4 linked regions of the Homo sapiens genome follow. The protein of the gene in region 4 purifies or fractionates together with the protein of the main gene of each other region. This does not show direct contact. Each region holds a gene or a part of one and is shown on either strand. Other genes may lie near its edges.

Region 1 (3,500 bases), on a different chromosome or scaffold from region 4:
CTGTTATAGGACAGAATCCTATACAGCTATTAAAAGTAATTACACAAATCCATTTGTTAATCTACTCTATCTCAATATGAATGAATTTTTTAAATACTGCTGAGTGAAAAAGCAAAATTGCACACAGTATACGGTACATATTTGTGTACATGTGTGTAAACATACAAAAATGAATAGAGAAATATATATCCAATTCATGATGGTGGATACTTAGGGGAAAAATGGGACTAGTCATAAGGATCAAAGGGCATTATTCATCCTGTAATGTTTTATTTTTTATTTGGAGAAACAGATTTAAAACAAATACCACAAATTTTAAGGAGAATCAATCCTGGTTAAGAAGATTCAATTCTTAGTTGTGGAATCACAGATACCTGTTATAATATTCTCTGAGCTTTTCTGTATATTTTTTAAATTCCTCAATTAAGGGTCTTTTTTTTTTTTTTTTAATGGAGTCTCACTCTGTTGCTCAGGCTGGAGTGCAGTGGCACTATCTCAGCTCACTGCAACCACCGCCTCCCGGGTTCAAGTGATTCTCCTGCCTCAGCCTCCCAAGTAGTGGGGATTACAGGCGCGTGCCACCACCATGCCTGGCTAATTTTTGTATTTTTAGTAGAGACGAGGTTTCACCATGTTGGTCAGGCTGGTCTCGAACTCCTGACCTCGTGATCCGCCTGCCTCAGCCTCCCAAAGTGTTGGGATTACAGGCATGAGCCACCATGCCCGGCCAATTAAGGGTCTTAATTACCAATAAAAAACATTCTATTTGCTATAACTGCAGAATCTGAAAATTGTACCTCAATTCCGAAATCACCAATTTATTTGCCTCACAGCAGCCAATGCAACGGTCTTCCTTGTTTGAGAAGCTACTCATCTGGTATTTAGAAAGATATGATTTAAAGCCAAATAATTCTCTTTTTAACTGCAAGTTTAAAAACAAACATATGTAAACTTATGTAAATGAGATGCATTTGCTTTTTTATTCAGAACTTCAAATTTTAAAAACTGTATGAATTTAATGGAAACAACTTAATGTCCATCAATAGGAGAATATATAAATACATTAAGAAATATTAAGATAATTGGAAAACTACAATAGTTAAAAGAAATAAACCTGAGTCACATAAATCAGTATGGATACATCTCATAACAATATTGAGTGAAAAACAAATTATAGTGGCAAACAGTATTTTCATAAAAACACTAAGCAACATATATATATTTCTAGATGCATCGATATGTGACAATATTTAAAACATGGACGAGAAGGATACACATGAATTTCAGAATAATTGCCATTTCTGAGGAGAGAGGAAGATAATTGGGATCTGACAAGGTACACAAAGAAGATTTACCTGTAAAATTTTATTCTAAAAAAACATAGAGTTGATAAGACAATATGTGTCCCAAATTTTACAAATAAGGTGCTACACTAGCATATGCACCTTTCTGTATGTTTGGATAATACAGAATTTTAAAAGACAGTTATAAAAAGGAGCAAGGTTAGCATTTAATGACTTCTACCTTCAAACTATAACCGAATCACACCTCCTAGAAGTAGAAAAAAATCACATTTTCTAATCGTGTCATTCTTAGCACTACAAGAAACAAACGATCAAGCATACATTACCACATTCGGAATCATATCTCAAATGATTCTTTTTTGAGAGACAGGGTCTCACTCTGTCACCCAGACTGGAGCTTATGATCATAGAGCTCACTGCAGCCTCGAACTCTTGGACTCAAGCAATCCTCCTACCTCAGCTTCTCGAGTAGCTAGGACCACAGGCATGCGCCACCATGCCCAGCTAATTTTTGCATTTTTGTAGAGACAGGGTCTCACTGTATTACCCAAGCTGGTCTTGAACTCTTGCTTCAAGAGTTCCTCTCACCTTGGCCTGCCAAAATGCTGGGATTACAAGCAGGAGCCACTGTGCCTGACCATATATGAAATAATTCTTGATACACAAATGAGAATGCCAAATTAAAATTGTTATCTGTATATGATTACTTTCTAATTTCAAAAGCAAACAGTACATTAAAAATCCAAGCAAATAAACAGCATCCTGGGAAAGCAGATATCAGAGGAGCTAAGATCTTATGTTCTAGTTTAAATTCTACTACTTACCAGTTGGGCAAGTTATTTACTTTCTTGGGTCTAGGTTTCTTCACCAATAAAATAGTATTGAATCAGATGATTTCTGAGATTTTTTTGGTTCATAATTCCACAGTTCATAACAGTTTAACATTGGTAAGTCTACCATCTAGTCTACCATACATTCATATCTGAAACCAACCATAATATATTTACCTATAGTTTCCCCTGATCTTTCCTTCATTTTACACCTATTGATTACAAATTCCTGAATAGGTTTACTTACCTTCTTCTTAATCTCATTTATATATATGGTCACAAATATTACTAAAAGAGAAAAGGTGGTAGACCATTATTATAAAAACATTTTAGGCCAGGCGTGGTGGCTCATGCCTGTAATCCCAGCATTTCGGGAGGCTAAGGCAGGCAGATCACCTGAGGTTGGGAGTTCGAGACCAGCCTGACCAACATGGAGAAACCCTGTCTCTACTAAAAATACAAAATTAGCTGGGCATGGTGGCACATGCCTGTAATCCCAGCTACTCAGGAGGCTGAGGCAGGAGAATCGCTTGAACCCAGGAGGCTGAGGTTGCAGTGCGCCAAGATCTCGCCATTGCACTCCAGCCTGGGCAACAAGAGTGAAACTTCGTTTCAAAAAAATAAAAGGCCGGGCATGGTGGCTCACGCCCATAATCCCAGCAGTTTGGGAGGCCAAGGCAGGGGGATCACGAATTCAAAAGATCAAGACCATCCTGGCCAACATGGTGTAACCCCGTCTCTACTAAAAATACAAAAATTAGATGGGCATGGTGGTGCGTGCTATAGTTTGAGCTGCTTGGGAGGATAAGGCAGGAAAATCGCTTGAATCCGGGAGGCAGAGGTTGCGATGAGCCAAGATGGCACCACTGCACTCCAGCCTGGCGACAAAGCGAGACTCCATCTCAAAAAAAGAAAAAAAATTTTAAGTTCTATGCCATTCTAATAAGTACATGAAAAGTTGCTCATCATGAGCCATTAAAAAAAATGTAAATTAGGGCCAGGCATGGTGGCTCACGCCTGTAATCCCAGCACTTTGGGAGGCCAAGGTGGGTTGATCATGAGGTCAGGAGTTCGAGACCCGTTTGACCAATGTGGTGAAACCCCGTCCCTTGTGCCTGTAGTCCCAGCTACTAGGGAGGCTGAGGCAGGAGAATTGCTTGAACCTGGGAGGTGGAGGTTGCAGTGAGCTGAGATCATGCTGCTGCACTCCAGCCTGGGCAACAGAGTGAGAGACTCCGTCAAAAAAACAAACAAACAAAAAAAAAGAAAAACCACAATGTGATACCACTTCACACCCACTAAGATGGTTATAATAAAAGAGACAGACAAGAACAAGTGTTGGCAAGGAAGTGGAGAAACAGGAACC
Region 2 (3,500 bases), on a different chromosome or scaffold from region 4:
TCCATCAATGATAAACTGGATAAAGAAAATGTGGCACATATACACCATGGAATACTATGCAGCCATAAAAAAGGATGAGATCATGTCCTTTTCAGGGACATGGATGAAGCTGGAAACTATCATTCTCAGCAAACTAACACAGGAACAGAAAACCAAACACTGCATGTTCTCACTCATAAGTGGGAGTTAAACAATGAGAACACATGGACACAGGGAGGGGAACATCACACACCAGGGCCTGTTGTGGGGTTGAGGGCTAGGGGAGGGATAGCATTAGGAGAAATACCTAACATAGATGATGGGTTGATGGGTGCAGCAAACCACCATGGCATGTGATACCTATATAACAAACCTGCACGTTCTGCACATGTATCCTAGAACTTAAAGTATAATTAAAAAAAAAAAAAAGAAAAAGAAAAAAAAGAAAGAAAAAATATTCTCATAAGAAAAAAACTCACGTCAAAATCTTTATGATTTTAATTAAACACATTTGTAACAACCAGTGAGGGTATTTGGCAAGTACGTTTCTAACAGTGAGGGTATTTATTACAAGTGTTGCTACCTGTAACGATTCTTATAAACTGTAAAAAATCATAATGTTACAATTTTATTATTTTGTTATCCATAAATAATGATTAACATGAATTTTTAAAAAGGTATGTTAATTCAGAATATAATTTTTAAAAATACATGTCACTCACTTGATTGGCTAGCTGCAATTGTTCTTGAAGGTTTCTGACTGTTTCATCATCTGCATATATGTCAGTTCCTACCTCTGTGCCCAGGGGAAAGGCCTCCAATTTTTTTTCAACAGCATCTTTTAATTCACTGTGCAACCTTTGAAACAAATAGTTAACATGATAGCCTCAAGTCATTTTCGTAACAGTAATTACTGTTTCGAGGTCAATTAAACATTTGGGTCAACAATAACTCTTTAAACAAAATCATTTTTAAGTAGACTTCAAATAAAAAATTAGAAGTGTTTAATTACCATTAAATACTGTGCTATAAGAATCAAAAGATTATATAACAATTTCAATGCATTAAATCGATCACAATTAACTGAAGCATGATTCAGTTTGTCCTAGAGAGGTTTCAATTTTTCAAAAATTTTCAAAAGAGTAAAATTCAGATATTATCTCTTATTAAATGATAAAATAAGCCATTCAGAAAAATTCTAAAATATCTATGTATATCTAGTCAATTAAATGAAAATTATATATTAAATCCTGTAGAATTATTTGCTATTTTCTTCAGCGTGTTTCACCAAACTCACTGGACTTCTTACTAATTCCAGTTAACAAGCAAAGAGAAGAAAATGGTCGCTGGCTATAAAACCAAGACATCAGAAGCTTTATTTTTCAGCACATCCTTATATAAGATCAACAATAATACTGAAAGGCTTAAAATTGACTTTAATCTTAACATTAAGGTAAATTACAGATATTTCATGCCTTAACTACAAAAAAAAGCAAGGAAGGTACAACTTAAAAGAATGATTGTTTTAATTTAAAATAATACATACTTAAGAGAAAAAAAGTACATTTTCAGAAAACACTCTTATTTCATATAATCATAAGCAGAAAATATTTATAGTAAATACATTACAAAGTGAAAATAACAAAATAAACTACATCCATCTACCTAAAACATTTAGAGGTGAATGATTTACTAATATTACAAATCTCCTTTGAAACAAGAAAACTTAAATCTTGATGTCAAAACATATTTATTGAAAACAAAATTCATCAAATACAATAAAACTGAGAAGGTAAACACTTTAGAAACAAAAAAATTAATTACTCTGAAGAAAGGACAGAGCTTGAAAATTATTCTCTAATTAAAAAACTTACAAGTATTGGTTAAGACAGTTTTTATTTTTAAATATCTAACAGTGTTTTTAAAAACTTTTATTTTTCCTATATGAAATGTTTACCTAATAGAGAAAATGATCAGTATAGAAATATAACAAGTTTTAGAAAAGATACCCCAAGTCCTATGAAAAAAACCATTATTAATTCTGTAATATATTTTCTAGCAGAATTTTTACTTTCCATTAAAAATAGACCAATGACATACTGTATTGCTAATACTATAATCTGTCTTTTTAACCGTAGTATTCAGACATATGCATTCTCTCACATTCTAAAAAGTTTTCTGCAAATATTTTAAAGATGACATAATATTCCATCATTTTCATCATATGGTTATCTGCATCATAACTTATCAATTATCCTAATCCTTTAAATTGATTGTAAAATGAAATGAAAAAATAGTAAAATTAATATTTAGTACACTGTACTTTAAAATATCAGAAACACTGAGAATTAAAGTGTCTTATTTCTTTGTTACGCAGCCAAAAGACACATGAAAAAATGCTCATCATCACTGGCCATCAGAGAAATGCAAATCAAAACCACAATGAGATATCATCTCACACCAGTTAGAATGGCAATCATTAAAAAGCCAGGAAACAACAGGTGCTGGAGAGGATGTGGAGAAATAGGAACACCTTTACACTGTTGGTGGGACTGTAAACTAGTTCAACTATTGTGGAAGTCAGTGTGGCAATTCCTCAGGGATCTAGAACTAGAAATACCATTTGACCCAGCCATTGCATTACTGGGTATATACCCAAAGGACTATAAATCATGCTGCTATAAAGACACATGCACACGTATGTTTATTGCGGCATTATTCACAATAGCAAAGACTTGGAACCAACCCAAATGTCCAACAATGATAGACTGGATTAAGAAAATGTGGCACATATACACCATGGAATACTATGCAGCCATAAAAAATGATGAGTTCATGTCCTTTGTAGGGACATGGATGAAATTGGAAATCATCACTCTCAGTAAACTATCGCAAGGACAAAAAACCAAACACCGCATATTCTCACTCACAGATGGGAACTGAACAATGAGAACACATGGACACAGGAAGGGGAACATCACACTCTGGGGACTGTTGTGGGGTGGGGGGAGGGGGGAGGGATAGCATTAGGAGATATACCTAATGCTAAATGACAAGTTAATGGGTGCAGCACACCAGCATGGCACAGGTATACATATGTAACTAACCTGCACATTGTGCACATGTACCCTAAAACTTAAAGTATAATAAAAAAAATTCATTTAATAAAAAAATGTAGTTATAACAAGCAGTATAATTATAACTGACAGTAAGACAGTTTTTAGGGTCTTAAAATTTTTAGCCAGGTTCGGTGGCTCACACCTGTAATCCCAGCATTTTGGTAGGCCGAAGTGGGTGGATCACGAGGTCAGGAGTTCGAGACCAGCCTGGCCAATGTGGTGAAACCCCGTCTCTACTAAAAATACAAAAATTAGCCGGGCATGGTGGCGTGTGCCTGTAGTCCCAGCTACTCAGGAGGCTGAGGCAGAAGAATTGCTTGAACCCAGGAGGCGGAGGTTGCAGTGAGTCAAGATCAAGCCACTGTACTCCAGCCTGGGCGACAGAGCAAGACTCTGTCTCAA
Region 3 (3,500 bases), on a different chromosome or scaffold from region 4:
AATTATAAGCTTACCTCTTTTGATAATTCACTTCGTTCTTTTGTTTGAATCATGTGAGAGGCTTCAAGTATTTCATGTTTTCTCCTAAGCTCAATTACTTCCTGTTCAAGTGCATCACGTTCACTGTTAAAATAAAATTCAAAGAGACATGTAAATTTTACATCCCCTTGTACAGCGTACACTTTAAAAGGGTTGACTATGTATTAGGACGCTGAATAGAGACACTAGCAATGGGGCTTCAGTGTAATTCCATGAACTATAAAGTACCTACTTTTCAGATTTAGAAGGGACTCTGTTTCAGACCTTGTTCAAATACATACATATCAATTTATTACCTTTAAGGAATATACAAACTACATAAGCCAGTACAGTAAATAATAAAACTTACTAACATACATTTGGTATTTTTTCATTAGTCATCTTCAATCTTATCTTGAGGTTAAAACTTTTAAAGAATGTATACATGGCTCTAGGCTTTCAGTTCAGTTAAGGTAAAAAAAAAAATACAACTTATCATTTAGATTGCATAGTAGATACGTAGGCAGGCATTCTTGTGACTATTTCATTCACAAATTGTTTATGATTACCCAGATTTTAATTTCCATTTTAAGACAAGTTCCCCAAAAAAGTTATACCAAGAATTGGACTAAAACCTACAACACACATTTTTTAAAATGAGCAGAGAAACAGATTTACTAACTCTTAACTACTTCCCTGCAGTCAGAAGCAGTGCCTTTGCACTTTATTTCACTGACCCACCTGGTATTTCCACAGAGAGGGCTGTTAGGAATTGTTTTCCTTTGCATCAGTTTTTCAAAAACGTTTAGAAAGCCTTTTTTCTTCTAGTTAACAAAATATTATGTTTATTGAAGAAAAACTGAGCAAAGCACAAAATAACAATCACCTACAAACCCAATAAGTAAAGATGACTATCAGTATTACTATTCTGATACATATTACTATACGTATTTTGTGCTTTTTTATTTTTAGAATGTTTAGATTATTTTTAATTAAAAAAATTTTTAAATTTTATTTTGTGCTTTCACATGCAATTTTTTAAAAAATCTTTTTTTTAAATTTTTTTTTTTTTTTATGAGATGGGGGTCTTGCTATGTCACCCAGACTGGACTTGAACTACTGCACTCAAGTGATCCTCCAGCCTCAGCCTGCCAGAGAGTTAGGACTACAGGTGCATGCCACCATGTGCCTAATTTAATTTTTTTTTTTTTTTTGTAAAGACGGTCTTGCTATATTGCCCTGGCTAGTCTTAAAGTCCTGGGCTCAAGTGATCCTCCTGCCTGTGCTTCTGAAAGCACTAGGATTACAGACATGACACGCTGTAACCAGCTTGGTTCTTTTTAATGCTTTTACTTACCAATCATTAACACTGTTGTATTTGTTTTGTAATATTAAATAAATATTACTTTGTCATATTTATTCAAACCCTCTCTCTTGTTAATATATGTGAATATATGCAGGTGTCTTAACGGTATATGTGGAGAATGGGTTCCAGACCCACCCCCACAACCTGAATATGCAAATCTGTACATGCTGAAGTCCTGCAGTTGTTGCAGATCCCACCAAACAGTCAGTCCTCTGTATACTCAGGTTTCACATCCCGTGAAAATTGTATTTTCGATTGGTGTTAGGTTGATAAAAACCTGAATATAAGTGGACCCCATGTTGGTCAAGGGTCATGTATCTATATGTGTATACACACCTACACACACATACTCATACATGTGCATTTGTTTCCTCAACTGAGACATTAGGTCCCTTTATCCCTAAATAATTAGTGTGAATTTACTAAGATTAAAGATAGTCTCTTATATAATCACAGTATAATTATCATATTCAGGAGACTTAGCCCTAATATAATATTATCTAACATACAATCCATTTTCAAATTTTGTCAACTGTCTCCCAAAACACCCTTTGTGAATTTTTTTTTCCCTGAGCCAAGGCTCTATTACCATAATGGTAATCCAAGGATCTATTATCATCATATTATAATCTATTACCATGCATCTAGATGTCATGGGGTTTTAGTCTCCTTTAACCTTGAAGATTTCTTAGTTTTCCTTGTGTTTTATGACTTTTTATAGAGCAGAGGCTAGCTGCATCATAGAATGCTCCTCAATTTTCACTTGTCTGAAGTTTCTTCATTATTAGATTCAGGTTAGGCACTTGGGCAGGAATACTACAGAAATGATTCTCAGAAATGATTCTCTGATACAGAAACGCATTCTCAGTATGTTATGTGAAGATGTACTGAGGTATGTGACGTCAGTTTATCCCATTATTGGTGATAGTAACTTTGATCACTAGGTTAAGGTAGCATCTGCCAGAGTTTAACTATAAAGGTATCCTTTTGCCCTTTAAAATTAGTAAGTAATTGTGAAGAGATGCTTTGTGTAAATATCCTATTCCCTAACATACTTATACTTCATGGTTTTATATTCCAATGATGATTCTGAATCAATATTATTATGCGGCTACAAAATGGTCATTCTTACATGCATATACATTTATTGCTTGGATTTCAACCATAAAGATCCTCTTTCCCAAAAAGGATATATTTATTACCACTGAACTGTACACTTAAAAATGGTAAAGATGATGTATTAAAAAAATTTTAAGATCCTCTTTCTGTATTTATTATTAGCCTGCACTTATAAACTCTTATTCTATTCAATGGACTGTAATTCATTATTGCCAATATTTATTGTGATATTCAAGTTTGCTATATTTAGCCAGTTGGCACCTCATCCAAGTGGCTGTTGCAGTGTTGAATTGGAATTAGAAGTATCAACGTGGGCTGGGTGCAGAGGCTCACACCTGTCATCTCAGCACTTTGGGAGGCCAAGGTGGGCAGATCACCTGAGGTCAGGAGTTCAAGGCCAGTCTGGTCAACCATGGAACCATGTCTCTACTTAAAAAAAAAAAAAAAAATTAGCTGGGCATGGTGGCGCACACCTGTAGTCCCAGCTACTTGGGAGGCTGAGGCAGGAGAATTGTTTGAACCTGGGAGGCAGAGGTTGCAGTGAGCCGAGATCGTGCCATTGCACTCCAGCCTGGGTGACAAAGTGAGACTCTGTCTCAAAAAAAAGAAGTATCAGTATGATCTCATCCATAGTGTGTTAAGCCTCCTCCTCATTCTCCCTCTACTTTCTCTGCCTACTCAAAGGGCCTAGAAATAATGACCAATGTAGCCATGACCATAGCACCCAAATCCTAAATTTCTAAATAGCATTCCCCACTAAGAGATCAAGACTTCTTAGACAAAGAGCTGAGGCAATGAAATTACAAAACCAACAAACGAAAACCAAAACTAGGAACATTATGTTATGCCAGAAAATAAGGAACTTTTAGTAAAAAAAAGTGATACATTCAGATCTAATTTAATGATTTTAACTGCTACATAAAATTATATTGCAGAGTAAATCTCAATTTATTTTCCATTCTGCTACTGAAAAGCATTTGAATTTCTTTTAATAATG
Region 4 (3,487 bases):
TTTCAAGACAGAAAAAAACAGAAGTCCAGTGTTGGGGAGCGTTACCTTTCCCACCGGATCCAGTGCTGAGAGAGACTCCATGGCTCTGGGTGAACAGGGGAATGGGAGTTTCAATGAAGGCAGAGGTCAGCCTGGCAGAAAGAACCAGAAAGAACAAGCCAAACAGAGGTCAGGGGCAAGAGCGACTCTCGTTAATGTTGAGCAAAAATGAAAAAAAAGCTTTCTCTAGACCAAATTGCTCACGAATTAGATATCATTTTAAACAGACAGCCATACACACATTTACATACTGGATGAGGACATAAAGGAAGTGATCATTTCTTTGAGCTCAAGAGTCATAAACTGTGAAACATACCTATAAAAAATTGTAAAGTGGGGATTGCTTATAACCTAAAAATGCCACTTCTCCATGAGACAGTGCCTTTTTTATTTTTTTGCCTTTTGTTTTTTTGCCTTTTTGATTTTTTTAGTTAGAGTAGTCAACCCAGGCTGAAGTATTTAGGGCAAACAGAGTATGATATCTCCAACTTAAGATATATGTATATATACGTGTATGTATATATATATACACACACACACGTATATATACGTGTGTATATATATATACACGTATATATACGTATATATATACACACACGTATGTATATATGTGTGTATATATGTATATGTGTGTGTATATGTATATATACGTATATATATACGTGTATATATATACGTATATATACATATACACACACATATATACATATATACATATATCTACTCATATATACGTATATACATATATACATATACATGTACACACACACATCATATATAAATAGAGAAAAAATGATAAAGCAATTGAGATAAAATATAAACAACTGGTGAATCTGGAGTATTCAGGAGTTCCTTGTTCTATTCTTGCAACATTTCTATCAATTTAAAATTAGACCAAAATCAGAACTTATAGATAAATAAAAGAGGTATCCAGTCACCTTTCTGTGAAGCCCTGTCCCAAAACAAAAATGTTTACAAAGTCACCGAAATGCCAGCTCCAGACTTATTCTTGCAGATGTGTGCATAGTGTTCACTGTGACATAAATATAATGTGGAATCATGCCAGATACACCGACCAGCACTGGAGAAAGAAAAATAAAATCCTGCTTCTCCTGCCAAGCATTCGAGTGCTCACAGCCAAGAGAGAGCACCCAGCGCGAAGGGAAGAGCTGCTCCTGGTGGGGACCTCAGTTGTGGGGGGCTTCTCTTTTCATTCAGTCGAAACCCAGGAATTTAGCAAGACTGAAGTGAAGAATCACAAATTAATTCCCAACCCGTTCTCTGGAAATCACCGTAGCTATGAATACCAGCATAGCTGGAGAGAAAGAGAGAATTTCCCAGCTTTCTTAAAGTGAGTAGGGATCGACTCACAGCTCCATTATGGAGAAGACCAGACAGCCACATAGTCACAGCCACAGACTGACTCAGCAAGGTGCTAAGAATTGTGAGGATGGCAGCAGGAGCATCACCAACACCTCTGAGTGCCCTCAAGTGCCAGGCTCCGTGCCACGTAGCTCACCTGCAGCACCTCATTAAATACTCCTGGGCATCCCACCTGCTGGGACACTTATGTCCCCAGAGGCCTATGAGCAAAACACAGGCTTCTCAGTGAGGCCTTTTCTGACCACCCTACTTAAAACTGCAAGCATTCCCCCATCACCCCTATTGCCACCACCCTCCTCCCTGCGGGAACTTCCTCCTCAGCACTGGTCGTACCTTCATCCTCTGTCTCCCCTACTAGTTATCCAACACCCATGGGGTCAGGAATTGTTCTGTTTCCTTCCCTGACACATGCCCACTGCCTATAACTGTGCCTGGCACACAATAGGCACTCAATAAAGAGTTGTGGAAGGAATAAGTGGCCTGGATGGGGAGGGCACACGCTCACCTGTTGCCTTCAATCTCGATGATACGATGATACCGGTCCAGCTCATTCTTCAGGGTTTGCTGGGCGACCGCCAGCTGCCGGCAGTCGTAAGAAGACTTCTCCAGGACCCGCTCTGTCTCCTCAATCTCCTTGCGCAGTGTCTCAATCTGCTCGTTATAAAGCTGAATCTCATCGTCATAACACTCATGGGCACTTTTAATAGCTTGTTCCAGAGTTGTTGTCTGTGGGCAAGGACACGCTGTAAGAAAATCCATCCCCCTTCTTCTCTAAGAGACAGACCTCACCAGGAAAAGGAACCTGGACTCGGTGAATGTTTTATGTTGTTTGTGTGTTTCTCTGTCCATTCGAGATTAGCAATGAATCACTTTGGAATCCTTAAGCTAAAAAGCAATGTGAAAACTGAGCTCCTGTGTCCTTACACAATTTTTTTTTTTTTTTTTTTTGATAGAGGATCTCACTTTGTCACCAGGCTGGAATGCAGGAGTGCAATCTCGGCTCACTGCATCCTCGACCTCCCAGGCTAAAGGCTTCCACCTCAGCCTCCTGAGTAGCTGTGACTACAGGCAAGCACCAACATGCTGGGCTTTTTTTTTTTTTTTTTTTTTTTGGTAGTGATAGGGTCCCACTTCGTTGCCCAGGCTGGTTTCAAACTCCTGGCTTCAAGTGATCCTCCCACCTCAGCCTCCCAAAGTGCTGGAATTACAGGTGCGAGTCACCGCACCCAGCCCTTCTTGCACTAATATCAGCACCCTCTGCAATTAGTCCATAAGGAGGCCCACCCCAAAGGCAGTCTGAAGACAAACCTAGAAAATAAAACGAAACCTAGGCCAGGTGGCTCACACTTGTAATCCCAGAACTTTGGGAGGCCGAGGCTAGCAGATCACTTGAGGTCAGGAGTTTGAGACCAGCCTGGCCAACATAGTGAAACCCCATCTCTACTAAAAATACAAAAATTAGCTGGGAGTGGTGGCACACGCCATAATCCCAGATACTTGGGAGGCTGAGGCAGGAGAATCACTTGAACCTGGGAGGCAGAGGCTGCAGTGAGCCAAGACCACACCATTGCACTCCAGCCTGGGCAACAGAGCAAGACTCTGTCTAAAAGAAAAAGAAAAAAAACTTGCTATCGGTGGAATAATATGTATAATTCAAATAAAGTACATTCTTCAGACTTTAATGAACAAGCATAAATCTGATAGCAAAAAAATAAGTAAAAAGAAGCACATACTAAATAGATAAGATGCTACCTTTATTGAAATACTGAGTGGGAGAAAAGTTTCCTTGTTCTCATTCAGCTTTGATTTTCTCCCGAGTTTGGATCGGCAGAGTTACATTTATGTTTTGGTAGCTAAGGTGTATGTGTGTGCCCTTGTGTACACATAAAATAATGTCAGAGAAATACAGTACATTAATCAGAGCAAGTAAAAATTAAGGGAGGAAAACAGAAAGAGATAGTTTTATATTCAGTGTAAGAGGTTGTGATGATACACAAAGACCCACAAATGCTCAGTCATGGGCCACATAACAGTACTGCAGTCAACAATGGACTGCATATAGGAT

What was found. The genes of interacting proteins can lie anywhere in the genome.
Region 1: the proteins of BFSP1 (region 4) and CCDC18 purify together in Homo sapiens (affinity purification with mass spectrometry; one large-scale study listed by BioGRID and IntAct). This does not show direct contact.
Region 2: the proteins of BFSP1 (region 4) and SCLT1 purify together in Homo sapiens (affinity purification with mass spectrometry; one large-scale study listed by BioGRID and IntAct). This does not show direct contact.
Region 3: the proteins of BFSP1 (region 4) and PIBF1 purify together in Homo sapiens (affinity purification with mass spectrometry; one large-scale study listed by BioGRID and IntAct). This does not show direct contact.

The regions. Positions count from the first base shown.
Region 1 is NC_000001.11:93,208,224-93,211,723, reverse strand, and holds part of CCDC18 (coiled-coil domain-containing protein 18), read right to left. Parts: intron 923-3,500; coding exon 798-922; intron 1-797.
Region 2 is NC_000004.12:129,003,040-129,006,539, forward strand, and holds part of SCLT1 (sodium channel and clathrin linker 1), read right to left. Parts: intron 838-3,500; coding exon 702-837; intron 1-701. UniProt on the Homo sapiens protein: Adapter protein that links SCN10A to clathrin. Regulates SCN10A channel activity, possibly by promoting channel internalization.
Region 3 is NC_000013.11:72,823,633-72,827,132, reverse strand, and holds part of PIBF1 (progesterone-induced-blocking factor 1), read right to left. Parts: intron 124-3,500; coding exon 15-123; intron 1-14.
Region 4 is NC_000020.11:17,496,893-17,500,379, forward strand, and holds part of BFSP1 (filensin), read right to left. Parts: intron 2,149-3,487; coding exon 1,928-2,148; intron 132-1,927; coding exon 46-131; intron 1-45. UniProt on the Homo sapiens protein: Required for the correct formation of lens intermediate filaments as part of a complex composed of BFSP1, BFSP2 and CRYAA. Involved in altering the calcium regulation of MIP water permeability.